Linked DNA regions of Homo sapiens. The protein of the gene in region 1 purifies or fractionates together with the protein of each later gene. This does not show direct contact. Each region holds a gene or a part of one and is shown on either strand. Other genes may lie near its edges. The genes, in order: NEMF, PPM1E, FOSL2, CC2D1B and VPS50.

Region 1 (6,424 bases):
GAAGATCATGTCTCTTTGGGATAATCTAAATTTCAAAAAAACCCCGAAAACCCAAAGTACGTGCTGTTTTACTGAATTTTTTTTTTTTTGGAAATGCTAAATATACTTATTCTAGTGAATTTAAAAGTATTTATCAGTCCGGGCATTGTGGCTCATGTCTGTAATCCCAGCACTTTTGGGAGTCCGAGGCAGGTGGATTGCTAGAGCTCAGGAGTTTGAGACCAGCCTGGGCAACATGGCAAAACCATCTCTACCAAAAAAATCACCCAGGCGTTGTGAGCGCCTATAGTCCCAGCTACTGAAGAGGCTGAGGTAGGAGGATTGCTTGAACCTGGGAGGCAGAGGTTACAGTGAGCCTAGATCACGCCACTGCCACTGCACTCCAGCCTGGGCCACAGAATGAGACCCTGTCTCAAAAAAAAAAAAAAAGTATTTAATTGGATCCATACTAACATACTTTAATGTATGTTTATATAGTGAGACTTCAGTATTTAATGGGTAATGCATAAATGTGTTTAACAAAGGTAGACTCGGGTAAATGTGCATTAGCATTTAGTTTTGGGTTTAGGAATTACAAGTGATAGATGAATTTATAAAGTGCAGTTTCTCATATGAAAATTTGGCTTGATTTAATAAAATATTTGTTTCAAGTAGAGAGCAATTATAGTTGCTGGAATAAATTCATCTGCCTACCTGAGGAAACTAGGGAAAATATTCCCACTAAACTACTTTTGTAGTTATTCTCTCTGCTAAGGTCATTCCTCTTTACAGGTAATATTGCATTGTTTCATTTACTATTACTGTTGTGCTGCAAGATTTTGTTGATTGAGGCTCACCATTTCCCTGGGACTGTATAAAGTGCCTTATTTACATTCTTTTCTTTTTTTTTTTCCCCCCGAGAGGGAGTCTCAGTCTGTCGCCAGGCTGGAGTGCAGTGGCACAATCTCGGCTCACTGCAACCTCTGCCGCCCAGGTTCTAGCAATTCTTCTGCCTCAGCCTCCCGAGTAGCTAGGATTACAGGCGCCTGCCACCACGCCTGGCTAATTTTTGTATTTTTAGTAGAGACGGGGTTTCACCATCTTGGCCAGGCTGGTCTTGTACTCCTGACCTTGTGATCCACCCACCTCGGCCTCCCAGAGTGCTAGGATTACAGGCATGAGCCACTGCACCTGGCCTATTTACATTATTTTCTATTCTCACAACCATCCTTGTCAGATGAGTGGTGGCATCTCATTTTACAGGTGAGGCAGTAGACCCTGTTACTACTATTAGACAGTGTTCCTTTTGCAGAAGAATGAGCACCTGCTATGTGGGCGTTATATAATACGTATTTAAGTTTTTATGTGCAAATTATAATAAAAGCAGCAAAAGTTATGCAACTAATTTTGCTGTCTTGGTTTTTGGAAATACCCAACTAAGGCAGAGTTGTGGTTTTCATTGTTGAAAGGGTAGCAATGTCCAAGAAATTTATTGTGGTAAAGGATCTTGGAGATCATTTAGTTCAACCTATTCATGATACAGGTTATTCTTTTGTCTAAGAGTACCCTTTGGGAATGATCAGACACTTTTCTGTTGATTTTTTGGAGAAATATGGGAGAAACAGTGGAATATTTTTATGACATTTTTAGGAAATCACCTGGCTTGGTTGGTAGTCCCACACTGACTTTCCTTATGATAATTCTACAGATGGAGGTGACACGAGCAGTGATGAGGATAAAGAAGAACATGAAACTCCTGTGGAAGTAGAACTCATGACTCAGGTTGACCAAGAGGATATCACTCTTCAGAGTGGCAGAGATGAACTAAATGAGGAGCTCATTCAGGAAGAAAGCTCTGAAGACGAAGGAGAATATGAAGAGGTTAGAAAAGATCAGGATTCTGTTGGTGAAATGAAGGATGAAGGGGAAGAGACATTAAATTATCCTGATACTACCATTGACTTGTCTCACCTTCAACCCCAAAGGTAATTAAAAAATAAAATTTTACATATTATTGTGTAAGCTGAGAATGATGATGAGGTAATCCTTACAAAGATAATACCAAGATTGACATCAGTACTTTTACACTCCATTGTCTTAATACTTTTTCAACATTTGATTGGGTCTCTCTGCAAAGAAATTCCCAGGACCAGGGTAGAAAAATACAGTGCATATAGAGTGGCCAAACTAGATCCAAATAGAAACAAGTAAATGGTTATAAATGCTAAAAACATAACAAAGGCAATTCCATCAAAGAAATGTGTTTTAGTCTATATAATGTTTTGCAGATCATCAGGTGAATAGTCCATAGTTATAAATGCATAATTAACTTAGGGGTAATTCAGAACAGTCTAGGAGTCAGACAGACCAGTATTGGGTCTTAGGGTGCGTCCTTGGGAAAATTACTTTGTGCTTAAGCTTCAGTTTCCTTCTTGGTGAAAACAGAATGGTATCCCTTTCATAGGGATTTGGTGAAGGTTTCATGCGTGTATACCATCTGGCAGTGCCTGACACACAGTAAGTTTTCAATACACGTCACCTATTTAAAAATGTATATGGAAGTGTGGAGAGAGGAGCAATTTGGTTGTATGTTTTTCTCACTTCACCAAATTTGAAAATTTGTTGGATTGCCAGTACTTAAGAGTATGATATGGGAATGTTTTGGGACTTTGTAAATGCATGTCTTTTACAGGCTAGTAGAGACTCCCTTGTGTTTATTTTCATAGGTCCATCCAGAAATTGGCTTCAAAAGAGGAATCTTCTAATTCTGTAAGCTATTTTCAGTTTTATGAAGAACATCCGATTCTCAGTGAATAATTTTCTACTTTTCAAAAAAGTTAATAGTGATATTTGCATTTGCCTGTTTTTTTGTTTTAATAGAGTGACAGTAAATCACAGAGCCGGAGACATTTGTCAGCCAAGGAAAGAAGGTAAACACATCTGTGTTAATTAACTAAAAAGCATGTTTTTCTTTTTTTTTTAATTGATAGCTCAGCTACCACAGATTACTTAGCTGTTTAAAGACTTCCTTCATTAAATTTACCAAGATTTAGCACAAATGTTTAGTTTTTAATATTAAGCTCTAATACATTTTTCTGTTTAAGGGCCCTAATCTATAACTATAATCAATGAAATAGACCTAGTAGAGTAAGTCCTCACTTAACATTTTCCTTTTTTTTTTTTTTTTTTTTTTTTTTGAAACAGGGTCTCGCTTTGTTGCCCAGGCTAGAGTGCTATGGCGCAGTCATGGCTCACTGCAGCCTCAAACTCCCAGGCTCAGGCAGTCTCCTGCTTCAGCCTCCTGAGTAGCTGGGACTACAGGCGTGTGCCACTACAAAAATTTTTATAGTTTTTGTAGAGACAGGGTTTCATCATGTTGCCCAGGCTGGTCTTAAACCCCTGGGCTCAAGTGATCCTCCCACCTTGGCTGCCCAAAGTGCTGGGATTACAGACATGAGCCATTGTGCCCGGCCTTCACTTAACATTTTCTTTTTTTTTGAGATGGAGTCTCGCTCTGTCGCCCAGGCTGGAGTGCAGTGGCATGATCTCGGCTCACTGCAAGCCCCACCTCCCGGGTTCACGCCGTTCTCCTGCCTCAGCCTCCCGAGTAGCTGGGACTAGAGGCGCCCACCACCATGCCCGGCTAATTTTTTGTATTTTTAGTAGAGACGGGGTTTCACCGTGTTAGCCAGGATAGTCTCGATCTTCTGACCTCGTGATCACCCGCTTTGGCCTCCGAAAGTGCTGGGATTATAGGCATAAGCCACCGCGCCTGGCCCACTTAACATTTTCAATAGGTTCTTGGAAACTTGGACTTAAGGGAAACAGTGTGTAATGAAACCAGTTTTGCCATGGGCTAATTGATATAAACAAGAGTTAAGTTCCTCTGGCATATTTTTGGTCACAAAACCATCACCAAGCTTCTAAATAAAGACTGAAAACTCTTCTAATATTAAACGTTAAAATAAATGTAAACTGTATGTATATTTAAGAAAGATGAATGAAAGCGAGCAAGATAATTATTTACCCAATTTTTGGTAAATCAATGAGTGATGGCAGTTGTAGTGGTAGTGGGTTAAATCAAGGATTATTTGCAAAGTGAAAACTATAGAGTACCTCCTACTACCATGAGGTTCAAAAACAAAAATGTGGCACATTCATTAAACACTTTCATACTACATTGTTGATTGTTATACATTTGTATGACTATAGTTTATGAATTTTTGACAATCATTTTTATTAAGTCATTCATTCATTCATTCATTCGTTTTTCAACCGCTTATTCCAGTTAAGGGTCATTGGTGGCTAGAGCCTATCCTGGCAGGTCAGGGCAAAAGGCCAGAACCAACCTAGAACAGGATGTCATTCTGTTGCAGGGCACACATACCTGCACTCATTCATGCTGGGATAATTTACACACACCAGTTAACCTGACATGCGCATTTTGGGATGTGAGAGAAAACCTGAGTACCTGGTGAAAACCCACAAAGACATGGGGAGAACATGTAAACTCTGCACAGATGGTAGCCGTGGCCAGGAATCAATTTTGTTCTCATCAAAGTTATAACACAATGATGTTGAATGAAATGATGTTATTTGAGGACTAGCTCTAATAAGACCTTTTATTACATAAACATGTACAATAATGATTTCAGTGTATTACATAGACTAGTTCTAGGGTGATATTGTCAGGAATAAATATGAATACCTGAAATTAGGAAAGTTTTATGTAAGGCAGAATAGTTGATTTTTTGTTTTTTGTTTTTTTTGAGACGGAGTCTCGCTCTGTGGCCCAGGCTGGAGCGCAGTGGCTGCGATCTCGGCTCACTGCAAGCTCTGCCTCCCAGATTCATGCTATTCTCCTGCCTTAGCCTCCCGAGTAGCTGGGACTACAGGCACCCACCACCACGCCCGGCTAATTTTGTTTTTGTATTTTTAGTAGAGATGGGGTTTCACCGTGTTAGGCAGGATTGTCTCGATCTTCTGACCTCGCGATCCACCCGCCTTGGCCTCCCAAAGTGCTGGATTACAGGTGTGAGCCACCGCGCCTGGCCGATTTTTTTTTTTTTTTTAATAGCAGGTCTCAGGAAGCAAGTAGAAGCAAGGGAAGGGCGGAAGGGAAGGGAACAACTACTGTAGGGTGGGAAAGACTAAGCAAACTAAAGCACTCCAGGAAGAGGCCCTAGAACAGAATGGACAATAAAGCCTTTTCATTTGAGAAACATAATCATTGAACAATTACAGAGAATTCTGAGCACATAGCCCTGTGCTAGATACTTACTGAGTATACAAAGAGGTGAAGTATAAAGCTCATGCCTTCAAGAAGCTTTTGAGTCCTGGATTCAGGAAGTAGTCATAAATATGTAAATAGTGTCTGAAAGTGATAAAGTAGTTCAAGAGTAAGAGATTGCTGTGAGTTCAGATGTTTGGGGAAATAACATCAGAAGTATACCTTGAAAGATATGTTAGCAGTTAAGTAAATGAAGGAGGGAGACTCCAAGGAGAATTAGCATTAACAAAGGGGAGTGCTTCTTTGGGGTAATATGCATAGTGCTTTGGGGAAATGATAAATAGACTGAGTTGGAAGGAAGAGAAAGTTTGTGTATTAAATGGTAGATAATATGATTGGAGAAGTAAATTTGGACTAAAAGTGGAGTACTTAAAAGCTAAGGATTTTGGACTATACCCTTTAAAGTGATACGAAGAGAATGTGACATAGGCAAATGATTAAGGAAGATTAATATAGAAGTTAATGGCCGGATGTGGTGGCTCACGCCTATAATCCCAGCACTTTGGGAGGCCAAGGCGAATAGATCACCTGAGGTCAGAAGTTTGAGACCAGCCTGACCAACATGGTGAAACCCCATATCTACTAAAAATACAAAGTTAACTGGGTGTGGTGGCACAAACTCCGTTTTAAAAAAAAAAAATTCAGAGTATGTAGACTCTGGAGGAAGTCTGGGTGGGATGTAATGAGGACCTGAACTAAGACGTTGGCATTGGGAACAGAAAGAAGAATACCACAGTAATAAAATTTACCCTTCCTTCTTAACCTGTGTATTTTTAATCCATTTAGTCAACCAACCGGTCAACAGATGTTTTATTGAATGCCTAAGACCTGCCAATGCTATGTTGGTACAAAGACTACAAATCCCAGTGCCTGGCCATCAAGGTGATCAGGGGCAAAATGTGCCTAGTGAGTAAGGATGAGTCAGGGGTGACAATATGTTGAGCTTGGATGATGGAAAGAAAGATAAATCCATGAGAGATGAAAAACTTGCATCTTTTTCCCACATGATGATTTTAAGCATCTTTGTATTTTCTAACTTGGTGATTATCAAGTGAAGCAGAAGCCATGACCATTTATATACTGTATATGTGCCTTCCCCATGGAACTTTTTTAGGGCACTAAGAATTTCAAATTCTAAGAATGAAATGTTTTCAT
Region 2 (6,424 bases), on another chromosome or scaffold:
CGGATTCAAGCAATTCTCCTGCCTCAGCCTCCCAAGTAGCTGGGATTACAGGCACGCACCACAATACCCAGCTAATTTTTGTGTTTTTAGTAGAGACAGGGTTTCACCATGTTGGTCAGGCTGGTCTTGAACTCCTGACCTTGTGATCTACCCACCTGGGCTTCTCAAAGTGCTGGGATTCTAGGTGTGAGCCACCGCGCCCAGCCCTCATTCATTATTTCTTACAGGAGTCAAAACCATCTTTCCCAAGCATGCTTTTGATTTAATCAACTTCACTTATATGCTAAGGTGCCTCCATAGCCTGTTAGAGCTCATTAAAACTCAATCTATTTAAGCAGAAAATGCAAAAATTTAAAAGATATTTAAAAATAAATAATAAATAAAATCCAATATGGGATTCAGTGTCCTTCACCAATTTACTAAAGTTCCCATCCCCTATTCTACCTGACTATATGATTATCATCATTATTATTTTTTGAATTCCGCCTCTAAAAATAAATGTGATCTGAGTCACACTGTTCCCAAAAATCTTGTTTTAGTGCTTCAATTAAAAGACTGCTGCAACTGTTAGTTTGGAACAGAACATACAAAGATTTGTACAGAGAAAATGCTGCCAAAGTTCTGGCTTTTCACCTGCTCTACTGTTGGGTGTCAAATTCATGACATTTCGCCCCCAAATTTGGTAGGAGGGCATGAATATCCATTTCATCGTAGAAATGGCAACATCCTTTTGTCTTCAACCTCTTCTCTCCATATGTTAGGAAACATATCATGCCTCTGTCAACTTTGGATCATAAATCTGAAGGGCTCATGGGGAGAAACTGTTGAAAACCTTTTCATTTTTATAAGTATCATTTCTTTCCTGAGTAGAGCTGAACTCTGCCCAGGAGTCCTTTTTCTTGTCCTTTTGCAGCCCCCCATTTTATTCCATGTGGTTTCCAATTCTTTCTCAAATTCTTCAACTCCCTCATCCACTTAAGCTACTGGATTTTGGTAAATGGCCTAATTTCCTACTTCAAAGACAAGTTGATCAGGCTTGAATTTTCTCAATTCCCCTCCCACCCTTGCCACACATGCACTGTTTAATCTGTAGAGATTCTCCCATATCAGCTACCATTTTCTCAGGGTAAGCAGTGTCCTTTTCCCATCCTAACAGTGAGCCTGTGCTGCTCTGGCTTCTCTACTCTCTCGTCTTCAATTTCTCCTCTACTTGCTCTCTTCCTTGTCCTACAAACATGCTCAAATCTAAAATCTCCTCGTCCTAAAAATAGAAACAATAAAAAGGAACCCTTTCCTGAATCAGCTTTTGCCTTAAGCCACCACACTATTTCCTTTCTCCCCTTCACCATCAAACTGCCCAAGAAACTAAATCTACACTTGCTCCTTTATGTTACTGCCTATTTCCAGTGCCAGATTGTTTGTTGATTAGTAGGTTTTCCCACCAACCAATCCATCTCATCAGTTGATACCCTCCTCCATATTCCTTTTTAGCTCTCCTCATCTCTGTAACAAACTGTATGAATGTCTCCCAGCCAGGCTCTTTCTACTCTAGCCCAGCTTCCATACAAATATCTTTATAAATACAAAGCTGACCCTGTGGCCCCTCTGCGTATTCACCTGGTAAAGTCCAGACTACTTAGCCTCGCACATAAGGCCCTTTGCAATCTGGCACCAACACTGCTAATCTACCACTCCCATCTCTGCTCTAACCTCCTGGACTTGTTGCTTTTCCTAAAACATGCCATGCCTTTTCAAACCCCTGTGTATTTATATTTCCCTCTACCTGTGTAGGGATTTCCTTCCCAGCACATTATCCTCCACATTCAACTCAAAAGTCACTCTATGTATGAAGTCTCCCTTATCCACTCTTAGATTGTTTATTTTTTATTATTAAAATAGAGATGAGGTATCACTATGTTGCCCAGGTTGGTCTCAAAATCCTGGGCTCAGGCATTCCTCCCTCCTTGGCCTTCCACAGTGCTGGCTGCCATACCCAGCCTTTTCTCTGAGATTGTCACTTATTAAGGGACATTCTTCCCTGCTTTGGTTTTCCCTTTTAGAAGAAGAAGCTGGTATTCTCTATTAAGTTAGTTCTGTAACAAGTATTAAAGATGATCCTCAATCCTCTGACAAAGGTCAGATCAGGAGAAATAGGTGTTTGGTTTGAGTTGTAAACCTAATTCACTGGCCACTCAAGCACTCATATAATGATCATTAACGTAAATTGGTTCCACAGATAGTATAGTCCTCTGGTTCGGTGATTTTCAGTCAAGGGTAGCATTTGATGGGTAGTGGGTCCTGCTAAACCTACAATGTGCATGATAAAGACTTTTCCCCACCAATAATAATAATAATAATTCCATATAAGGGTATATTTTAGAAATGAGACATTTCCCCTTTTTGGCCTTATTCTAGAGTTCCTAATAATTCCCTCCAGTCTAAGGTCAAGCCAAATCTCAATTTTTCAGGAGGTATTTGTAGACTCTTTTAGCTATTTCTCTTTCAGCTTTCTACTCATATTTGGGCCACTTCACAGCTTGCTAGCACCTTCCCAAAGAGTGGGAGGAACTCAAATCAGTGGTGAAAGCTAAATCCTTTCAGATTTTCTTCATGTTCTGGAATTTTTGGTAATTTTTAACTAAATTTTGAGACTAGATGTGAATTCCAACCATGTCTAATTACTTCATTTCTTTAGGGAAGCAGAGATTAAAAACTGCAGTATACATGTAATGTACATATCACCCATATAGATATACATATTGATTTATTCTTTTTTAAAAAAACAGGAAGTGAAGCTAAGCCATGAAGCCTAAAATAATAAACCCAGGGCCCAAAGTGAGACAAAGACAGAAATAGCTTAATTCTTTGAACTTATACCCTTGTATTTTGTCCAGCCAACTTAGCTGTTTAATCTCTACGTTTTAGACCGAGTTTCATTGACTTTCCCTTCTTTTGAAAAATTTAAGTCCCAGGGATATAGGGTTCTTTGAAACTCCAGGGTTATCTGACAGGTGACTGTATTCCACATACAGAAAGTAGTTTTCATATAAAAAGCACAATGCTTTTCCTATCAACTTATTCTGTTATTTATGTCATTTTAAAATTCATGGAAATAATTTAGAGGCATAAACAAAATGAATGTGGATAAAATACGGAGAAAGGCTTCCATTCTCTGAAAAATACTGATTTGACCCAAAATGCAATGAAATGAGAAACACTATGATTTTTTGTTTTTGTTTTAAGACAGGATCTCACTCCCTTGGCCCAGGCTGGAGTGCAGTGGCACAATCTTGGCTCACTGCAGCCTCAAACTCCTGGACTCAAGCAATCCTTCCGCCTCAGCCTCCTGTGTACTAGGACTACAGGCACAAGCCACTACGCCCAGCAATTTTTTTTTTTTTTTTTTTTTTTTTTTTTGAGATGGAGTCTCGCTCTGTCGCCCAGCCTGGAGCGCAGTGGCGCGATCTCGACTCACTGCAACCTCCGCCTCCCAGATTCAAGTGATTCTCCTGCCTCAACCTCCCAAGTAGCTGGGACTACAGACGTGTGCCACAACACCCAGCTAATTTTTTATATTTTTAGTAGAGACGGGGATTCATCGTGTTAGCCAGGATGGTCTCCATCTCCTGACCTCATGATCTGCCCACCTCAGCCTCCCAAAGTGCTGGGAATACAGGCGTGACCCACTGCGCCCGGCCTTTGTTTTTTTTGTTTTTTGTTTTTTTAAGAGATGAAGTCTTACTATGTTGCCCAGGCTGGTCTTTAACTCCTGGGCTCAAACCCTCTTCAGCCTCCCAAAGTGCTGGGATTACAGGCGTGAGCCACTGTGCCTGTCCCAACCACTGTGGTTTGAAGCAGATTTGGGTACTGATTAAAGGCTTCCATAAAATTTTAAATGTATAGAAACTAGAAAATTCTGCATTTCTTGATATGGTTCTCTTTTTTTTTTTTTTTGAGACAGTCTCACACTGTCACCCAGGCTGGCGTGCAATGGCGCGATCTCCACTAGCTGCAACCTCTGCTTCCCAGGTTCAAGCAATATTCCTGCCTCAGCCTCCCAAGTAGCTGGGATTACAGGCGCCCGCCACCACGCCTGGCTAATTTTTTGTATTTTTAATAGAGATGGGGTTTCACTATGTTGGCCAGGCTGGTCTTGAACTCCTGACCTCGTGATACACCCGCCTCGGCCTCCCAAAGTGTTGGGATTACAGGCATGAGCCACTGAGCCTGGCAGTTCTCTTTCAATAATGGAATTTAAGTATATAAATGTACAGGTTTAACTAAATCAAACAATTAAAAGAGACGTTATCCAATTATTATTTTAAAGAATAATAAGCATTCTGGTAACATAAATTATCATCTCAGGTTCCCTGTATCAGAGTTGATACAGGAGAATGAGCTAGAAGAGGACAGTTTGGAGAAACAAAAATTTGTTTTTCCTACCAATAGCTCTGGAAACCGACAGACTTCCATTCACCCTCCAGGCACCAAACCAGACTACGCAACCTCCAAGGGCCTCAATTCTCTGCTTTTCATCCTAAACAGCAATGCAATAAAAAGAAGCAAATAACTGGATTCAGGATTTATTCATTTACTTTAACAGTAAACAACAGATATAATACTCATCAGCTCATGAAAAGGTTCTCTTTGTTTCTCCATTGGAGGGTGGGCACAGTTGCTGATGTGATAGCAATAATTGTAATAATTAAGTGAATCCTGGCCGGGCGCGGTGGCTCACGCCTATAATCCCAGTACTTTGGGAGGCCGAAGCAGGCAGATCACCTGAAGTCAGGAGTTCAAGACCAGCCTGGCCAACATGGTGAAACCCCGTCTCTACTAAAAATACAAAAATTAGCTGGGCGTGGTGGCACATGCCTGTAATCCCAGCTACTCGGGAGGCTGAGGCAGGAGAATCGCTTGAACCCAGGAGGCGGAGGTTGCAGTGAGCCAAGATCACACCATTGCACTCCAGCCTGGGCAACAGAGTGAAACTCCATCTCAAAAAAAAAAAAAGTAAGTGAATCCTAATCAATAACTAGAAAATCTAAACTAATAACTAGAGCATGGGCTCTATTAAAACAGACCATACTTACCTCTCTGTCTGGTTTGTGTGGCTTCATTAGTTCAACAGCTTGGCCCTTTCTCACAAGCATAACCTGGGAATCACCCACCCAGGCCACATGTAGCATGTTGCCTCTGATGAAAGTCACCACTCCTGTGGTCCCACATCTTAAGCTCTGAAAACAGTTTAAATAAAACTAGACTCAGTGAAAAGAAATAGATACTACATTCTTATTGAGAAGCAATTTATAATTAAGCTTTTCAGCTGGGAGCTATACTATTAATAATGGAATTTCACACATATATAATAATTCATTGTCTCAATGCATTTGTATATGCATGTATGTATTTATGTGTATATACACACATAAGTCCACCTGATCTGTGATATGCAGGGCGAGGATGATTATTAATTCCACTTTAAATATAGATAAGAAAACTATGGCAGGTTATGTGACTTGCCCAAGGGCAGGTAACTATTAGTATATAAGACAGAATTGAAATTCTTTTTCCTCCCAGTCAAGCACTAAATCCTCTATACCAATCCTCAGAGTAAAAATTTCTATATTCTGCTCTCCATTTCATTACTGACATCGTATTTGTTCAGTGGGAGAGTCCTAGCTGTATAAAATGATATATAAAACATCTGATTGGTACACAACAGATGCTCTAATCTCTGGAAATTAAGCTAAGGGGCCAAGAGACAGCTTACGTTCCCTGGAGTACTAAGATGCTTATACCTTTAAAAAAATATCCTTCCTACAGTATTTTTAGGGGTCTTTGCTTTTGGAACATTGCATAAAGAACTAACAGCCTGGAATTTCACTGCAGTAGCTACGACTGTACTTAAAGCTCTTGGTCCTACTATACGAAAATGACATCCCCATTTGACATGAGTCACCACCAAATGAGCATGACTTTCTGTTACTAAGGACCTGGCCTAAATTAGAACCAATGCGTCAGGGGTGGTAAAAGGTCTCTTGTATCCAATGAGAAAAACAACTTCTCGTTTTCCCTATATAGGGAAAGTTTGTTATAAATCCTCACCCACCAATAAAATGTCTTCCCACACAGAATGTTCAAAAACTCAGCCCCCTAGAACACATGATAAACACACTTCAGTGCATATGCCCTGGAGAGAACAGGAGGCAGGGCTGCTTCATAACAGGAATAGCTGTTTTCTTCCCAGCAGTTAGCAGCACATGGAAGCATAAGAAGGAGAAAAGGGGCGCTGAGACAAACCTAAATTATTCAGAACTATTGGCAGAACTGAGAGACACCAGGGTCACTGACAAAACAAATGAGGTAAACATGGTCAGAAAACAACAACAACAACAACAACACATAATTTTGAGAAGACAGA
Region 3 (6,424 bases), on another chromosome or scaffold:
CATGCACACTCCTGTATCCCTAGCACCTAGAACAGTGCCTGGCTTCTCAGAAGTGCTCAGCAAATCCCTGTGGGATTATCACAGCCTCTCCTCCTCCCTTTTTTCACTCCAATTTCTTTCTTTTTTTTTTTTTTGAGACAGAGTCTCACTCTGTCTTACCCAGGCTGGAGTGCAGTGGCATGACCTTGGCTCACTGCAGCCTCTGCCTCCCGGGTTCAAGCTATTCTCCAGTCTCAGCCTCCCGAGTAGCTGAGACTACAGGCACCTGCCACCACACCCGGCTAATTTTGTATTTTTCATAGAGATGGGGTTTCACCACATCGACCAGGCTGGTCTTGAACTTCTGACCTCAGGTGATCCACCCGCCTCAGCCTCCCAAAGTGCTGGGATTACAGGCATGAGCCACGGCGCCTGGCCTTTTGCTCCAATTTCTTAAGCACATATTTCAGGACTCCCAGAACCCTCAGAGAACATTTGGTTCAGCCACCACGCTTGACACAGAAGTAACGTGACAGCCCGAGAGGGCCTGTGAGGATGCCAGGGTCACCCCGCAAGGACCTCAGCCCCCTTCTTTCATCCCCAGCCAGAGAAGCAGAAGCGAGCAAGTGCACGTGGAGGGGCCGCTGTGGGAGGGGAAGAGGTGTGTGTCACCAGCCTCCTCCCCACGTTTTCCCTAACATGGATTCCTGTTCATCAGTGAGGACATACGGGCAAGGGCTTCGTTCAGCAGAGGACAGCATATTCCGGAGTGAAAAACAGTTTCCGTCTGTCTCAAGGGTCTGACGAACGTCATGAGCTTCTGAGAGGCTTCCTGTGGAGGATGTGGCTCAGGGGCCTGGGTGGCTGGGTCAGAGGGCGGGGGAGGTGGGGGAGGCAGGGGAGTAGGGTGTGAGGCCTCTGGGAGGAGGGAAGGAAAGTAGAGGAGCCTCAGGGGGCAGGGCTATTCCGGGGCGGGTGGTGAGGAGCGCCACATGGGGCACAGCTCCTTGAAGTGCCAATCACAGAAAGGTTAGTGGTGGGAGGGCCCGCTGAGGAAGTGGATTGTGGATCTGCCTCACCTGGGAATGAAGAATTCCCACTCATCCTCCCCGGCTCTAACACCTCCGAGGGCCATTACTACAGGCATCACAGAATTCACGCAATTCAATTCATTCAACACCCCAGAGTGAGGGCTGCAGGACAGAGAAAGACAAGCCTAAGTGGGTGGATGGTACCTGGAAACATTAACTCAAGTGAGGGGATGGGCCAGGCGTGGTGGCTCACGCCTGTAATCCCAGCACTCTGAGAGGCCAAGGCAGGCAGATCACCCGAGGTCAGGAGTTCGAGACCAGCCTAGCCAACATGGTGAAACCCTGTCTCTATTAAAAATACAAAAATTAGCCGGGCATGGTGGCAGGCACCTGTAATCCCCGCTAGTTGGGAGGCTGAGGCAGGAGAATGGCTTGAACCCAAGAGGCAGAGGTTGCAGTGAGCTGAGATCGTCCCACTGCACTCCAGCCTGGGCGACAAGAGCGAAACTCCATCTCAAAAAAATTATAATAACAAAAAAAGTGTGAGGGGATGTTTTCCAAAGCCCCATCCTGGGCAGTCACTGTGAGGACCACTGACAGAGTCTCTCTCATCTCCTCACTCTGAAAGCATTCCACTGGGGAGAGTCAACCCTGGCTCGGGGCTTCCTCCACACAGCACACGGCCCTTCCTGCAGGGCCAGGCTCTGAAGGGAGTTACGTGACGTTGGTCAGGTCAAGCTTAACAGAGGGAAGGGCAGGGCTGCGGGTCCCCAGGTCTGGGCAATTAGGCGGCACGGGAGAGTGACTCACAAGAGCAGCACGCGGTACCATGGCCACAGCTCTGAGTTCATGATAGAGGTGGGGAACCCGCCTGCCCATAAAGGAAATGAGAAAACCCCAAGAAAATACAACCCTGCTGCCACGTGACCTATCTCCATCAAGACTTCTCCCTGGCCCAACCCAGAGTGCTTAGGCCAGGCTGGGCCACTCCTGATGGCGGCAGGCATGGGAGTGGCTGGAACCTCGGGAAGCAGCCCTGGATGGGGCAGGTCTGGACCTGCCCTGGCTCCCACCCTCCATCATCCCTCACCCAGGAGCCCCCACAGTTCTGTGAGCAGAGAACACTCAGGTGCTGCGTAAAAACCGTGGCTAGCACCCCCACAGAAGGTTGTTCATTTCTTCCCTCTGGGCCCTGGCTGGTGCTAAACGCCACCTCCCTCTCTCTCTCTCTTTTCAATCAACACAATGCTGACCCATGTGTCCAAAGGAAGGAAAGCTCTATCTCCACTGACTCATCTGTAGGGCATTTGTGGGTAAGGAGACAGCTGTGGGAGAGAGGATCAGGACCCCCGGGGCTCTCACTCCAGCCCACCCAGAGGTGCTCCCACCCTACGCAGAGTTCCTCACCGCCTGCAGCTTCTCTGTCAGCTCCCGGCGTCGGTTCCGGCACTTGGCTGCAGCCAGCTTGTTCCTCTCCCGCCGGATGCGACGCTTCTCCTCCTCTTCAGGAGACAGCTAGAGGCCAAAGCCAAGGATCATGGTTAGAACAGAGACAATGGTTCACAGTATTTTTTAAAAACTGTATTTTAAGTAAGGCAAGAAGCCCTTCTGGAAATGGAGAAAGGAGAAGGAAGGGCAAGAGGAGCATGGCTGGACTCAGAGGCCCCAGAACATGTGGATCCCTGATGTCTGGCTGCCTGGGAGGGCTCTTTTGAGCTGAATCTGCCCCGGAAGGTGATGTCCAAGTTTAAAGTCCATGTTTAAACAGGACAGCAATGGGTCAGAGATTCACTGGCCCAGGCATGATGGCAGCACCTATCACATCAGCCCTGATTCAGTGCTCAGGCCAGAGAGAAGGAGCTGGGGATGCTTCTCCAAGAGTCCCCTCCTGCCAGCCAGGCGTGGCCCCACCCACTTAAGCAGCTTCTTCCAAACCCTGGCTAATTTCTCCTCCCATCACTCTGCCTGCTCTGCAAGCCTCATTATCCCCATTTTGTTAAGTAGCTGGGCCTGGAGTCCCCACACAGGTTAAGAACCACCCAGGGGGGAATGTTATGTTGCTGATGGGAGGGCCAAGAGTGCCACTCCACTCCCGATTTCCTCTGCCAATCCCAGGGTGCCAGCTGCTCACGGTTCAACCCCAGGTACTCCCCCACATGCCTGGTACAGTGCTAAGTTGGACAGGACATGCAAAAGGAAGAGGAGCCCCCAGCAGGTAAAATCCTGCTGCCCACCATATCTGTCCACTCAACAAGTGAGCACCTGGTTCCATGTGCAAGATGAAGTTCTACGGGCTTGGGATTTATCTGCGAACCAAACAAAGGAAGATTCCCCTGCAAAGAGCTTAGGATCTAGCTTCTTCCAGTGAGACAGTTAGGAATCTGTCACTCATACCGGAAAGCATGAACTCTGCTCTACTGAGCAGGGCAAATGCTCTGGTTCTACAGAGCCCTGCAGAGCTGTGACCCCAATGCCTCTCTCAGGCAGAGGTGACACAAGGAGACGGCTGTGGGCCAAAGCAGAAAGCAACACAAAGGGAAAGCCCACCCATTCAGTTATCAGACGTTGACTGCACACCTACTAACTGCCCGGTGCTACACTAGGAGCTTAGAAGATCTCAAGGGGAATAAGACCTGGGTCAGCTCTCACGGGACACCTGGGGGCAAAATCAAAGCTACTTTTGGAGGAGCAGGGAGAAGCTACCCCAAGGAGGGATACTGCCTGGACTTCAGGTCACCCCATGAAGGAAAGAGCCACTGTCCTGGTTGGGTCCAAGTCAGAGTCCCACAATGCTCCCTTTAGCCCTGGAGGTCTGTTGCTGTGATGTTTTGAACAGCAAAGAGAGGACAATCATCACAGCACCAGAGAGGACAATCCCATGCCTGTCACACAGAGGGAAGTCCACAGCCCGGCTGAGGTCATGAGGCCATTTGGCCAAGGCCCTGAATACTTCCTGCTCCTAAACCTGTCTTGTCTTGAGCCCAGCAGAATTGCCAAGAAAGCCTTATGGCCCTGCTGCAGGCCTGGGTTTAGGGCTCACCACTGAAAGGGCCACCAGGGCTCCCCTTAAGGCCCAGGAAGCCCCCTAGATCCCTCGCTAATGAGAGGCAGAAAAGAAGGAGGCTGGCCTTGACCCAGTTCAAGCCCTCCTTCCCCCTTGGCTGCTTCTGGACAACTTTTGGCCTCCTGACTGACCTAGAAGTCTCTCCCCTGACTGGTGAGGTGTGGGGCAACTTGTGGGAGCTGTCAACATAGGAAGTGTTCAGGGGCGGTGAGATCAACATGGTTCCAGCTTGAGTGTGTCAGCAGCACCATGTACCCACCCACAAGCCACACACACCCTCCCCTCCCCACCTCCTCAGAGTCGCCGCCACAGGGCACAGAGGGAACCTCCCAAGAGGAGGCCTATGAGGCACCAGGCCGGCTCCGGAGGCAGGCTCCTCCCTAGCAGGGAGGCTGGGGGAGGCTGGGGACGGCCGGAGTAAGCTTCAGAGCAAAGCCCTGAGGGCTGGCAACCTGAACAGCCAAAGTTCTAGGCTGCCACTGCCCAGGCTTCCTTAAAGCTGCTGGGAGATGTGTGAATTCCCAACTGATGTGGGATACAATGCTCCTTGTTCTCTCCCTCCCTCTCAAAAAAGGAAGGAAACTCTCCAGACAGATTGTATGAGGCACGCCTAGGTGGTGTGGTGGGAAAACCACAGGGCCAAAGGTCAGGAGAAGTGGGTTCCAGTGCTGGCTCTGCTACTAATTCACTGTGAGACTCTAACAGGGCCCTTCACCTTTCTGGGTCTCCGTTTCCTTGTCTGTAAAATGGGTATAAAGGGAAAATGAGAAAAGATGGTCTCCAAAGTCCCTCTGGATACAAATTTCTAAATTTGGTGTGAGGTAGGCCCAGAAGAGAATGGAGAGCGTGGCCGGGCGCGGTGGCTCACGCCTGTAATCCCAACACTTTGAGAAGCTGAGGCGGGTGGATCACCTGAGGTCAGGAGTTCGAGACCAGCCTAGCCAACATGGCAAAATTCCATCTCTACTAAAAGTACAAAAAAAATTAGCCAGGCATGGTGGTGCATGCCTGTAATCCCAGCTACTCAGGAGGCTGAGGCAGGAGAATTGCTTGAACCGCGGAGGTGGAGGAGGTTGTAGTGAGCCGAGATCGTGCCACTGCATTCTAGCCTGAGTGATAGAGCAGGACTCCATCTCAAAAAGAAAAAAAAAAAAAAAAAAAAAAAGGGAATGGAGAGCATTCAGCACATCCTCAGGCTTTGTGGTCCTGCTAGCCCCAAAGAGTACCTGGCAAGCCTGGCTCTCACTCAGGATCACTTATATCCCAGAAGAGTCCAGCTCATCAGTGAGTATAAGGCTTTGCACCTTGGATTCCGTGAAGGAAGCCTATTTATAAAAGTCCTTACAAGCATGGCTACTGCAATATTTACAACTGCAATTATAGAAAGCAACTGTGAGGAGGATACTGGCCACTTGCTCCAGCAGCAGAGGCCCAACATGCAGCTGTGAATCCATTATAGTGTCTAGCAGACACACCTCCCCAAGTGGCTCTGCACCGTGGTTCTGCCATTAACAGAACAAACCAACAAGTAGTGGATACAAGACCCAGCTTTGTCCTCGCAGGAGCAGAGCTCCTGAGAAAGCTTCCAGTTTCTTGGTGTGGTGATCCCTGTAATTCCAAGTATCCTGGGGTCTGGATCTACCCTGATCCACTGGGAACCATGTTTGAAAGGTCCGTATATTGGAACATTGTGGCCCTGGGGATCACAGAGTGAAGATGGACAGTGGTTGAAATGAGGAAGGGTTCCAAGGCTGTCACTGAAATAGTTTCCCAGGATAACAATTCATTTGAAAAAGGGATTCCACTGCTAAAGTATTTTTCCCTTCCCTGGGCTCAGGGTGGCATAGCCCTGGAGAAAGAATACTGCATAGGGGGTCCAGGGAACTGGGATCTAGCCCAGACTTCCCCACTCACTGGCCGAGTGGCCACACACAGGTATGTCTGGCCCTTGCTTGTATCATCTGACATGGGGGAGAGGTGGGGCTCTCTGAGGCTTTATCCCATTCTTTCTGGAATTATGCATGATTCTGATTTCCCTTTCCAAGACCAGGGAACTTGGCACTGCCCTGGCTTACTGCTGATCCAGGCAATGAGCCTCTTGAGTACTAGGTAGGTGCTGCCTAAATAGCAGAGCCCCCCCTTCCCCATTTTCTGGCTTCCCTCCCCAGCCAGGTTAATTCTTTCTCAAAGCTGAGCCCCTTGAAGAGAAAAGGGCTGATGTCTGGCCTCCCCTGCCTCATCCTCCTGTCCATGCCACTGAACAGACTCCTAAGGCCCCAGAGTTACTGCACCTCTGGAACATGCATTCCAGGCCCTTGAAATAGGCTCCTGCTCCGAGTTGGAGGCCTAG
Region 4 (3,986 bases), on another chromosome or scaffold:
CAAGACACACAGACGTTGTACTCTGTACAATTCTTGCATGCTTCCCATATCAAATTTTCCTTTTAAGCCGTTCTCTTTCCCCCCAAAATCGAAGTGGTTACTTTAGATGGGAATCTGGCCACTTCCCCATTACTCCGCTCTCGGTTTTTTTGTTTGTTTTAGTTTGAGACAGGGTCTCACCTTGTCACCCGGGTTGGAGTGCAGTTGACAGCTCATTGCAGCTTGGACCTCCGGGGCCACAGCGATTCTCCTGCCTCGGCCTCTCAGTAGGTAGGACTACAGGCACGCACCACCACACCCGGCTAATATTTGTAATTTTTTGTAGAGACAGGGTTTCGCCATGTTGCCCAGGCTGGTCTCGGACTCCTGAGCTCAATCTCTTGTTAACTGGACTCTGCAAGCCGCAGGGAGAAACGTGCTTTCCTTAGAAAACTAGACTAGAGCATATTTACTGATGCTAAAGAGGTTGGTTTTGTATTTCCCTGGGCAAATAATTCTCTCTGAGCCTCCGTTTCTTCTAGAGATGATGTCCATCTTGCAGGATTGAGAACTGGTATAAGCTCCATTATGAAAAGTGACTGACACAAGCTTGGCAGAAAACGGGTATACTCCGTTTCTCTCCTTAATATCCTCCATGCCATTTGATTGCACAGCAGGGTAGGCGAGTGAGAACTTAGTGTTAGACTCTGTAAAGTATTTAAGATGTGCAGCGAGCTCTGCCTGTCTGAAGTTTTCAACGGACCGGAAAAGGATACTTTCAGGTGCTGAATTATTAAGAAACATATGGTGGGCCCCATTTCCATTTCCCCAGGCTTAAAGGACATGGACAAGCAGGTGAGCCCCGCCCCTGTCTCTCTTCCAGGGCGGAGCTTGGGTAGGCCCCGCCCTCTTGCTCGGTGGGGCGGGGCGAGGGCTGGAGGCGGGGTAGGTCCAGCGAGCGAGCGAGCGCCCAGCGCCTCGGGCTGAGTGAGGGAGGAGGTTCGGTGGAGAGGCTGCAAGTGGGCGAGGGCTGGGCGCAGCGACCTCATTGGAGCCGGCCGGTGGACGCCCCGGCGGAACCGCCCAGAGTTCCTGTCCTGCGCTACCTACCCGAACGCGCCTGCGCGCTGCGAACCCCGCCCCGGTGTCACCTGTTGGAGCCCCCCGCCCGCGTAGCCGTGCACATGCGCACTGCCGGCCGCCGGCCAGTGGGGTCACGTGTTGCGCGCGAGCCACCTCCCCTGCTGGCGCTTCCTGTCGCTACCGCTGCGGCCCAGGGCCCGCGGGAGCCCAGGGCGGTGCCGGGTGAGACAAGGCCGGGGTTTGGCTCGGATTCACCGCGAGGTATGCCGCGTCCCCGCCCCTCGGCGTGGGGAGTTCTGGGGACCGCGGGGGTAGATGGAGGCGGCGCGGGCGGGGCAGGGCGGCGCGTCCCGCAGCGCGGGAGTGGGGGTCCCGTGTCGCCTCCCCCTACGGACTCCGTTGCCCACCTTCCGTGAGGCCTGGCTGTGTCATCGGGGCCGCAGCCTTGGAGTGTCTGGCCTCGCTTTCACCTGAGCCGGAGTCACTCCCGAAATCTGACACTCAGAGTCCCCCGGAGCGCCCGCCAGCTCCTCCGCCCGCTCCCCGCCGCCTCCACGCCCGTCAGCTGGTCTCCCCGCCAGCGCTGTGGCGAGATGCGCCGGCTTCCTGCCTTTTCCCCCTACCTTCTGTGCACCTCCCCTTTGGTGCCAGAATGGGGTTTCTGAAACACCGATACGATCCCGCCACTTCTTTCCCAGCGCCCTCAGAATAATGCCCAAACGCTTTTCGGCTTAGAGGTTTTCATATTCTGCCGCTTGCTCACATTTCCACCTCGGCTTGTGCATTCAGGCCTCACCGCTTATGCCCCAGTCATACCAGGCCTCAGGTTCCATTGTACAGGCCAAGCTGCTCCCCACTTCAGAGCCGTCAAGTGTTCCCTCGTCTTGGAATCCTATTTCCCTCTTTCCCCCAACTTCTTTGCGTGACTCAGCTCAGGCGTCACCGCCTCGAAGGAGGAGCCTTTTCTCCCAGGGCTGAAGAAGGGGTCACCTCAGGGCACCCATGGCCCCTGGGGCAACCCCGTGTAGTCCACCTCCACCCTGTAAATGGTCATTGAAGGCTGAGACCGTCTTAGGTTCATTTCTGCGCTCCCAGTGCCCAGCGCAAGGTCTGACACAGGAGGTCCTGTGAATAACTGTGAGATCTTTATGGGAATCAGAATGCTGAGCCAGCTTTCTCCAGAGCTCAGCTGTGAGATGGAACTTTGATGACATGTCCTTGGATGATGAAAATGTTCTGTGTGTGTGCTGTCTGGTCATAGCCCCTCACCACATATGGCTGTTAAGCACTTGGAATGTGTCTGTTGTGGCTGATGGACTGGATTTTTAGCTTTATTTCATTTTAATTCATTGAAATTTAAAATTAAATAGCCAGCTGTGGCTTCCATAAGCACAGCTTTAGAGCCTTTCTGAATTCTACCCAGCCTTCCACCCACCCTGAACCTAGAGTACTTCCCTGAATGTGCTTTTTAAATTTGAGTCCGTTCAGAACATTCCTCAGTAAACCCATTAACAGGTGATCCCCATCCCTCCCATGGCCTGTGCTGCTTCAGTGCTTTAATTAAAGGTAACCCATACTTTGGTGTTCAGCATTGCCTTCTTTGGGAGTTTACTATCCACACCTTACCACGGGTAGCACTGTTGGGGGCGTGGCTTATGGGCTACTCCAGCCTGAATCTCTGTAACTCTTCCATAGGTATCTAGGCTGCCATGATGCCAGGGCCAAGACCTCGGAAGGGCCCTCAGGCCAGAGGCCAAGGGGTGGCCGCTGCCAAGCAGGTATGGAACTTAGCCTTCTAGGCTACTGGGTCGGTTTGGGGATGGGGGTCCCTAGACAACTTAGGCAAACTGGATCACATGTAGTTCCCCCATTAGTTCAGAGACTTGGAGCAGTGCCTCCTGGAGGTGGCAGAGCCCTTAGACACCCTCCTACTAGTCTCTTCCACATACAAGTGGGGAGAGGGTTCAGGAATCACCAAAGTTTAGGATGTTCTGATGGGACCTCAGTGCTCTCAAAGGTTCCTTAGATAGGGTCACAACTTTGCTTGTTAGCCAGGGATGCCAGGGCATGAGGGCTGTAGTCAGTGGGAGGACTTCACTGCCTAGGGACAGATGGCTGTGCCCCAAGTGGAAGAACAGGGGGGTCTCCTCTCCAATTTTCTTCCTTTATTTCTTCTGGGCCTACATCTTGAGACTTCTTAGTCCATTTTTACTGTCTTTAAAAAGGCAGGTAAGAAAGGAGGTGGGGTAAAGGGCATAGACTCAAGTCGCAAAGAGCTTGTTTTAAATTCTGATTGTCTCACAAGACTGTCTCAGTTTCATCTGAACATTGGGATAAAAACAGAATGTAAGCTGGGTGCCGTGGATCACGCCTGTAATCCCAGCACTTTGGGAGGCCGAGGTGGGTGGATCACCTGAGGTCAGGAGTTTGAGACCAGCCTGGCCAACATAGTGAAACCCCATCTCTACTAAAAATACAAAAATTAGCTGGGCGTGGTGGCATGTGCCTGTATTCCCAGCTTCTTGGGAGGCTGAGGCAGGAGAATCGCTTAGACCCGGGAGGCAGAGGTTGCAGTGAGCCAAGATAGTGCCACTGCACTCTAGCCTGGGCGACAGAGCCAGACTCTGTCTCAGAAAAAAAAAAAAAAAAGGATGTACCTCTACCTAGAGTAGTCATATTCATGGAAACAGAAGAATGGTGCTTACCAGAGGCTGGAAGGAGGGGAGGAAGGGGGGTTAATGTTTAATGGGTAGAAAGTTTGTTTCACAACATGAAAACAGTTCTGTGGATGGATGATGGCGATGGTAGCAGGATATTGTGAATGTCCTTATGCCATTGAACTCACCCTTAACAGTGGTTAAGATGGTAAATTTCATGTTGTATGTGTTTTACCAGAGTTTAAAAAAATAGGACCTTCTTTTTTT
Region 5 (6,424 bases), on another chromosome or scaffold:
GAGTGAAATATAAAGAAACATTTGCTTTTTTAATACAAACTACTTAGGTCAATTCTTTGCCTTATTCAGATTAAGGGCACCGTATCTAAGCAGTGCCCTTTGACTCATCAAATCTTTTTCAGCCCTTTGTGAACTGTTACTGTAATGATCTAGAAATACAGCCAAAGCCAAGACATTAGCTATATTTTTCCTGCAACTGTGTTATAGGAAAAGGCTGAAGTTGATAAATACTGAGACAGATTGAATACAGAAACAATGAAATGATTCATAAGCCATAATCGATTATGTAACTTAAACCTTCTCATACAAACCTTCTCGTACTCCTCAACGATGAAATGGTAACATCCTACACACTGACACGTATTAGTGATGAGTGAAGACATTAATATTTAAATGGCTAAACTTAACTTACATCTTACATTAGATTTTACCTTTAATATAGATTTGATTATTTTTCTTTTGTATGACTATATAGATAACGAAAAATACTATTGTTACGTAGGATGCCGAATTTTTGACACAGTTCAACTCAGTGAGCTTGGTATGGGAAGCTTTTCTGTATATGGCATGTGTTAAAATTATCACCAAATCCTCATTGCTTTGATAACTCTAGGATTTACATTTTCTTAACCTATGAATGTCATGGGTAAAAGCTAAGTCAAGTTTTATTTCATTTGGGTAAGAAAATAATTATTTGTATATACCTGCTCAGACTCATCCTTTCTGGCCTTAACACTGTAAAGAGATAAAATGCATTAGCCTAGAACATTCACATTGGCGTGAATCTTGTGTGAATGTCCCCACTCTTACTCAGTTTCGGATCTTTAGAAGCAAAGTAGGAATGTATGTGTTATTTTTAATGAGTTCGACCAGTAAAGCCAGATTGAGAAAAACTTCACCACGTTTAGCCCCACTGACATTTGATAACCAAAATGTTAAACCTAGATGCAGATAGACTGCTTAATGTTGCTAGAATCCATTTAGTAAAGTAAGCTGTAAACACTTCTGGGTTGGTACTGAGGAAAGGGTTTTGGGAAAGAATACAAAGTAGCCAAGGAGGAAAGGCACAGCTCTATTCGATGCAAGAATGATGCCCGTTTTTTGAATTTCCTCTTTTAATATAGTAGACTGATTTTTTTTTAACTTAGTACTTTGAAAGAGCTTTAACTGATTGATATTTGTAATTCAGTGACATTTCCCCAGCAGCAGCAGGGACTCTTTTCTGTCTTTGAAGGAAACTTCCCACAATGATGAGTCCAGCGATCACTGACGATGGATCCTCACTGAATGCTGAGTGGTTAAATGAGATTACTTACCAGGCGGGGACAGGTGCTCTCAGAGATCAGATACACAAGCTGAGCAGTTTGCCAAGTTTTTAAAATCAATTCTTTCTCCTATTTTGAAATTGTACTATATTTAGTGGTTACCTTCAATAAAGACACATTTTCTTTTCTTATTAGATAATAGTACACAGCTGTCTTTCCCTATCTGAACTCTTGCTATTCAACCTCCAGTACCAAGTCAATCTGCAGAAATTTCTGATGAATCCCTGTTTATTCTCATCCTAGCAATTCAGTATCTAAAATTCAGGAACCAGATGGATTTGGATTGCGAAAGATACTCGTAGTCTTAATTTTATTTGCAGCTCCCTGACTTTGTGATCCTTGTTACCTTATTCATTTGTTGTATCTTAGAAGAGTTGTTCTTCTGTTGTTGGAGATTTTTTTTTTAACTAAAGTGTTTACAAAATGTAGAGGGCCAGAAAAATACTTCATCAGTAGCATTTAAAAAATTTGAAATGTCAGTGTATTTTGATGACTCAATAACAAAGACTATTACAGAAACAAGTGTAAAGTGTGTGATCATCAAAGCAGTAAGAAGCATACGCATGTCAGATTGCTTTGCCATATTAAAACAGATTCTAGTGCTTACTGTTTCAAATGTGTACTATAGTATTCTTATTCTCTCCTATTACAGCTCAGTAAACAATTTGCCTTCCATGTCCCAACTGTAATTTCCACTGTTTTTCACTGGTTTATAATGCTCAGTAACTATCCACTGCACCTGAATATCCGCCTGTTCTTTTGTTGCACTGATCAGATACATTCCTTTTAGGGTACTAAATTTGGATCTTTCTTCTTTGAGCAGGAATATTCAACGAAGCAGCTGACCAATCTGGTGAATGTTTGCCTGGGATCCCATATCAATAAGAAAGCAAGACAAAAACTTCTAGCAGCTATAGATGATATAGACAGACCTAAAAGATAATGAACACAGCTCTCTTTCCTCAATGGCATTGATCCTCACTCAACATATATGACCTGAAAGCCAGTTTTTTTATGCACTTCTGACAACTATCTGCTAAGAAAACTTTGTGCATGTTTTTTTGACTGGAAAGTGGAAAATATTGAAATGTGTGTGGTGTTCTCATGACTTTTATATGCTGTGGTCTCTTCAACTTTTGGTCTCATTTGTTGTAATCTGAAATGATGTTGCCGCCTTGTCATAACAATGGTTATGTGACTACAGTTATACATTTTACAGAAGAATGTACCATAAGTATATAATTAGAAGAACAGTGGCTTAATATATGTATGGGAAGTTTATGGAAAATGAAGTTGGCACTTTTCTACCCTCTGAGCTTGGTTCTTAATAAGCATAATGTGAGGGTGAATATGTAGTATCTCCTAATTATGAGCACTGCATGAGAATTAAAAAACACATGTAAGTAAAATAGTTGAAAAATCAGTATGTTCTCTGTTTTTAAAATGTCAAAGTTTATGTCAGGGTTAATTTAGTTATAACAAAGTGATCATAATGGTGAAATTTAATAAATATACTCTAGTATGATCAGCCTATGTGAGACTACATTTTGATTTTTTGTGTGGCATGCAGATGTCATGAACTATAGTGCAGCTTTTAGTGTGTTCTAATTTTAATTGTTTTATATCCTGAAACCAATGGTGAAAAGTAATTTCATTGAGGGTACCTTTTCAATGCCTGAGTAGCATACAGAATCATGATTATGAGACTTTCTTTTATCTTTCTTTATAAAAATATGTGGTTTTTTTGTTGAAAGTTTTGGTCTCTTTAAATTCAGATTTTGTCTTAGGACAGTAAAACCCAGGTTGACTGACTCAGGAAACAGTTGTCTGCTAGTCACTCATAAATGTACGGTCATATGTTCACTCTTCTTAAATATCCACCTTTTATAACACAAATGTAAAATAGTATCAGTCTAGCCAATGATGAACTCTGGAATCCACTTAGTCTTCAGTAAGTATGTGCTGTTCCTCTAAACTTTGCCCTGAAGCCAGGGATCTTCTCCTAATGTATGTGACATAAAAATCCATTTTCCATGTACTCTTGCCAACTGTCTGATAAGGAATTTTGTGTGTGTTCTTTCTGACTGGAGAGTGGAGGACATCTAAGCTTGTGTGGCATTGGTCCAATGATTGCCATGCATGACCTGTAACATCAACAGCTCACAGAATCCTAAGGAATCATGTGAGAAACAGGCCTTGGGTCTTATGAGTCTTCTGGGACCTAAGGTGATAAAATGGATGGCACAGAATGGCATGTGATCAAGCATGGAGGTGATAAGGAAACAATTGCTACTCTGTGTCCATCAGTCCCTGCGATGTCTGTAAATGCACAGTGTAATGTGAAGCACTTTCAGAATATGTTTGTGTGTGTCTGTATGCTGAGTGTTTTCTTTTCATCCTCTCATGTCGGAGTTCATTTACTGTCAATTTAAAACTTTCCTCTTGTAAAAAGGTATGAGTTTGGTGCCATTATGATTTGGTTGTGGCTAGATTATATACTTGTGAAGTAGATTCTGCCTGTAGCCATTATTTATATGCAGCCACTTGAAGAAAACAAACATGAGATAAGCTTGGTCCTTGAGTTTAAATGGCATATTTAGCTGGGCACATAAAGAGCTAATCAATCTTTTAAAATTTGCAGTTGATGAAGAGCTGCTTATTTTTCTCTTCTACATGGATTTTATAGTTGGTTTCCTTTAATTTCTACTTTAGTTGGCCCTAGATAATATGAACAGGAATCACCTGCCTGGTAGAGCCCAGTGTTTTCCAAGGTAATAGGAATTGATACAAAAGAATTACTTATCTTGTTAGAGACTCGACCATGCAATCTGACAGACCTTTTAACCTACCCTTACTTTGCTTTCTCCATCTTCAAAATGAAATGGTGGATCTTTTTAATGCTTTTTGAAAAAGGTTTTTTTTTTTTTTTTTTTTCATTAAAAGGTAGCTTAATAAGTGCTAGCTAGCATCAAAACAGTAACAGGAGGTTTGAGTCATGAAGTTACCTAATCACAAGAGAGTTACCAGACATTTCTCAAATACTTTATACAGTAATATTGAGTTATAACCATGTAACATTTTATGAAACTAATTTTCAGATAAATACAATTGAAAAGCTGAGAATGTAAATGGAATTATACGTGTTCCAAAAACTATCATTACCAAAAATTTATTATTTTTGAGTCTAAACTTTCCTTAACTTTGACATTTTCCATGAAAGTTTCCTGTAGAATTTACCATGGGAGCATGGTAAATTAGCATTCCCTGAGAAAGAATGATCATTTCTACAAATACATTGTCTTGCATTTAAAAATGCTAGGGGGGCACATAGCAATTCAAATGAACTAGTTTGCTTTGGTTTATAAAACCAACAGAGATTTTGTAAGTTCACTTTAACTAATAAACTCATTTACACAACTTATTAAATGAATTTCTCTTGAAACCAGGGCCATATGGTATTTTATCATATCTTTAAATAAAATTTCGAAATTTCTATTTAGCTGAGTGCTAAAGTGAAACTTTGTTAGATTAAATAGCTTTTTCTTAACTCACCAAAAAGTAGTAAAAGGCTTGTAATTCAATTCACCTTGTAAGCATAGTTGTCTTTTGTAATAAAAAACTAGATCTGAAGATGAATTGATGAATACAAGTTGTGCTCAAAGCACATAGAAGTACAGGGTGGGGGGGATTTCCATATATATACATATATATATATTATATATATATTTCTTTTTGGAATAATTTTGATTCGGATTAGTGGTTAACAAAATGATATTTAGCTTCTGACAATGATTAATGATGAGAATTATTAATAGTCTGGTATAATCTTTGTAAATGTTAAGACTGGTGCAGCTTTCTACAGATTTTTTCTTATTGTGGAAAATATTTGCTCAATTCCTATCATCCACAGCTTTGTAAAGGCTATGAAAAAGTTTAAGCAGCACAGCTCTCACAAGGACAAAACTGTTAGATTTATACAAGAGAACTGTTAGCTGTTTCAAAATGAATGGAGAAAAATAATTCATTTGCTTTGATGTGCTTTTCTTGATTGACATATCCTTTTTGAATATTGCTAAGTATACTTAGATCATTTTTTCAATATGAAAACAAAACCACAGCTAAATATTCTCGTTCACTTAGAAGGATCCCTCTGGAATTTTAGTACTTTATTGATATGATTAATATAGAACTCTTTTTGGTGTTTTTGATAACCATTTTTATAAGTTAATTTAGACATCACTTTTTGATCCCAAGACTGAGAAGACCTGGCCCTGGTGAGGATTTCCAAATTTGCCCTGTAGGTATTTTTTCACACTGAGCTAAGCCTTTCCATCCAGGAAAGGGATTTTCTTCATCAGTAGTTTTTGTTTTACTCTGTTCCTTCCCAGTCCTAGGTACCAAAAGGATTTCTGCTTTAAAGAAAAGGCATTTCCACAATGTGGGCATTTTAATCCAGCTACACCAAATAGCAAGCATGCTAATCTTTGCCCAAAAAGAAAGGACTTTGTAGTCAGGGTGTCCATTTTGACACCACTCAGTACTAGAGCCTACGCTAAAGTGTAGTGACACCATCAGGTAACCACTGGGAGACCATTTTTGCTGGCTACCTGCTATCTGCCTTACCTTACTTCTGTTATCCCTGCTTTCCTAATCACAATCCCACCTTTAAGCACCCAAGCAAGATGCTATCCTTTCCATGAAACTTATCCTTCCCAAGGAGAGATGTTGTGGAGAAAAATCAATAGGGAGTGGTGGTGGTCACAATGGTAGTATAACTTAAACAAGGATGGTGGCAGAAGGCCTCCCTTGAGAGGAAGGGAAGAGGCTTGCCATGCAGATGTCTGAGTGAGTGTAGCAGGCTGAGAGAATGTCAAGTGCAAAGGCCCCAGGGTGGAGGCTGCTGTCAGAGAACAGCAAGGAGGGCAGTGTGGATGGCATAGTAAGCAGAAGAAAGTAAAAGCAGAGAGGATGTGGCAGGAGGGGACACATACGGGGAAGGACTTTGGATTTCACCTTCAGATGGAAGCATTTGAGGGGCTGTGAACCAAGTGATGACCTGATTTGTGACTTAGGGTTTACCAAAACCACTCTGTGTATTT

What was found.
Region 2: the proteins of NEMF (region 1) and PPM1E fractionate together in Homo sapiens (co-fractionation; one large-scale study listed by BioGRID). This does not show direct contact.
Region 3: the proteins of NEMF (region 1) and FOSL2 purify together in Homo sapiens (co-immunoprecipitation; one large-scale study listed by IntAct). This does not show direct contact.
Region 4: the proteins of NEMF (region 1) and CC2D1B fractionate together in Homo sapiens (co-fractionation; one large-scale study listed by BioGRID). This does not show direct contact.
Region 5: the proteins of NEMF (region 1) and VPS50 fractionate together in Homo sapiens (co-fractionation; one large-scale study listed by BioGRID). This does not show direct contact.

What each region holds. Positions count from the first base shown.
Region 1 is NC_000014.9:49,795,960-49,802,383, reverse strand, and holds part of NEMF (ribosome quality control complex subunit NEMF), read left to right. Parts: intron 1-1,687; coding exon 1,688-1,964; intron 1,965-2,705; coding exon 2,706-2,748; intron 2,749-2,859; coding exon 2,860-2,909; intron 2,910-6,055; exon of another isoform or gene 6,056-6,151; intron 6,152-6,424. UniProt on the Homo sapiens protein: Key component of the ribosome quality control complex (RQC), a ribosome-associated complex that mediates the extraction of incompletely synthesized nascent chains from stalled ribosomes as well as their ubiquitin-mediated proteasomal degradation.
Region 2 is NC_000017.11:58,970,945-58,977,368, reverse strand, and holds part of PPM1E (protein phosphatase 1E), read right to left. Parts: intron 5,238-6,424; coding exon 5,094-5,237; intron 4,538-5,093; coding exon 4,444-4,537; intron 1-4,443. UniProt on the Homo sapiens protein: Protein phosphatase that inactivates multifunctional CaM kinases such as CAMK4 and CAMK2. Dephosphorylates and inactivates PAK. May play a role in the inhibition of actin fiber stress breakdown and in morphological changes driven by TNK2/CDC42.
Region 3 is NC_000002.12:28,404,860-28,411,283, reverse strand, and holds part of FOSL2 (fos-related antigen 2), read right to left. Parts: intron 2,526-6,424; coding exon 2,418-2,525; intron 812-2,417; coding exon of another isoform or gene 709-811; intron 1-708.
Region 4 is NC_000001.11:52,363,406-52,367,391, reverse strand, and holds the start of CC2D1B (coiled-coil and C2 domain-containing protein 1B), read left to right. Parts: upstream 1-1,186; 5' UTR 1,187-1,323; intron 1,324-2,757; 5' UTR 2,758-2,771; coding exon 2,772-2,840; intron 2,841-3,986. UniProt on the Homo sapiens protein: Transcription factor that binds specifically to the DRE (dual repressor element) and represses HTR1A gene transcription in neuronal cells.
Region 5 is NC_000007.14:93,356,169-93,362,592, forward strand, and holds the end of VPS50 (syndetin), read left to right. Parts: intron 1-2,148; coding exon 2,149-2,268; 3' UTR 2,269-4,955; downstream 4,956-6,424.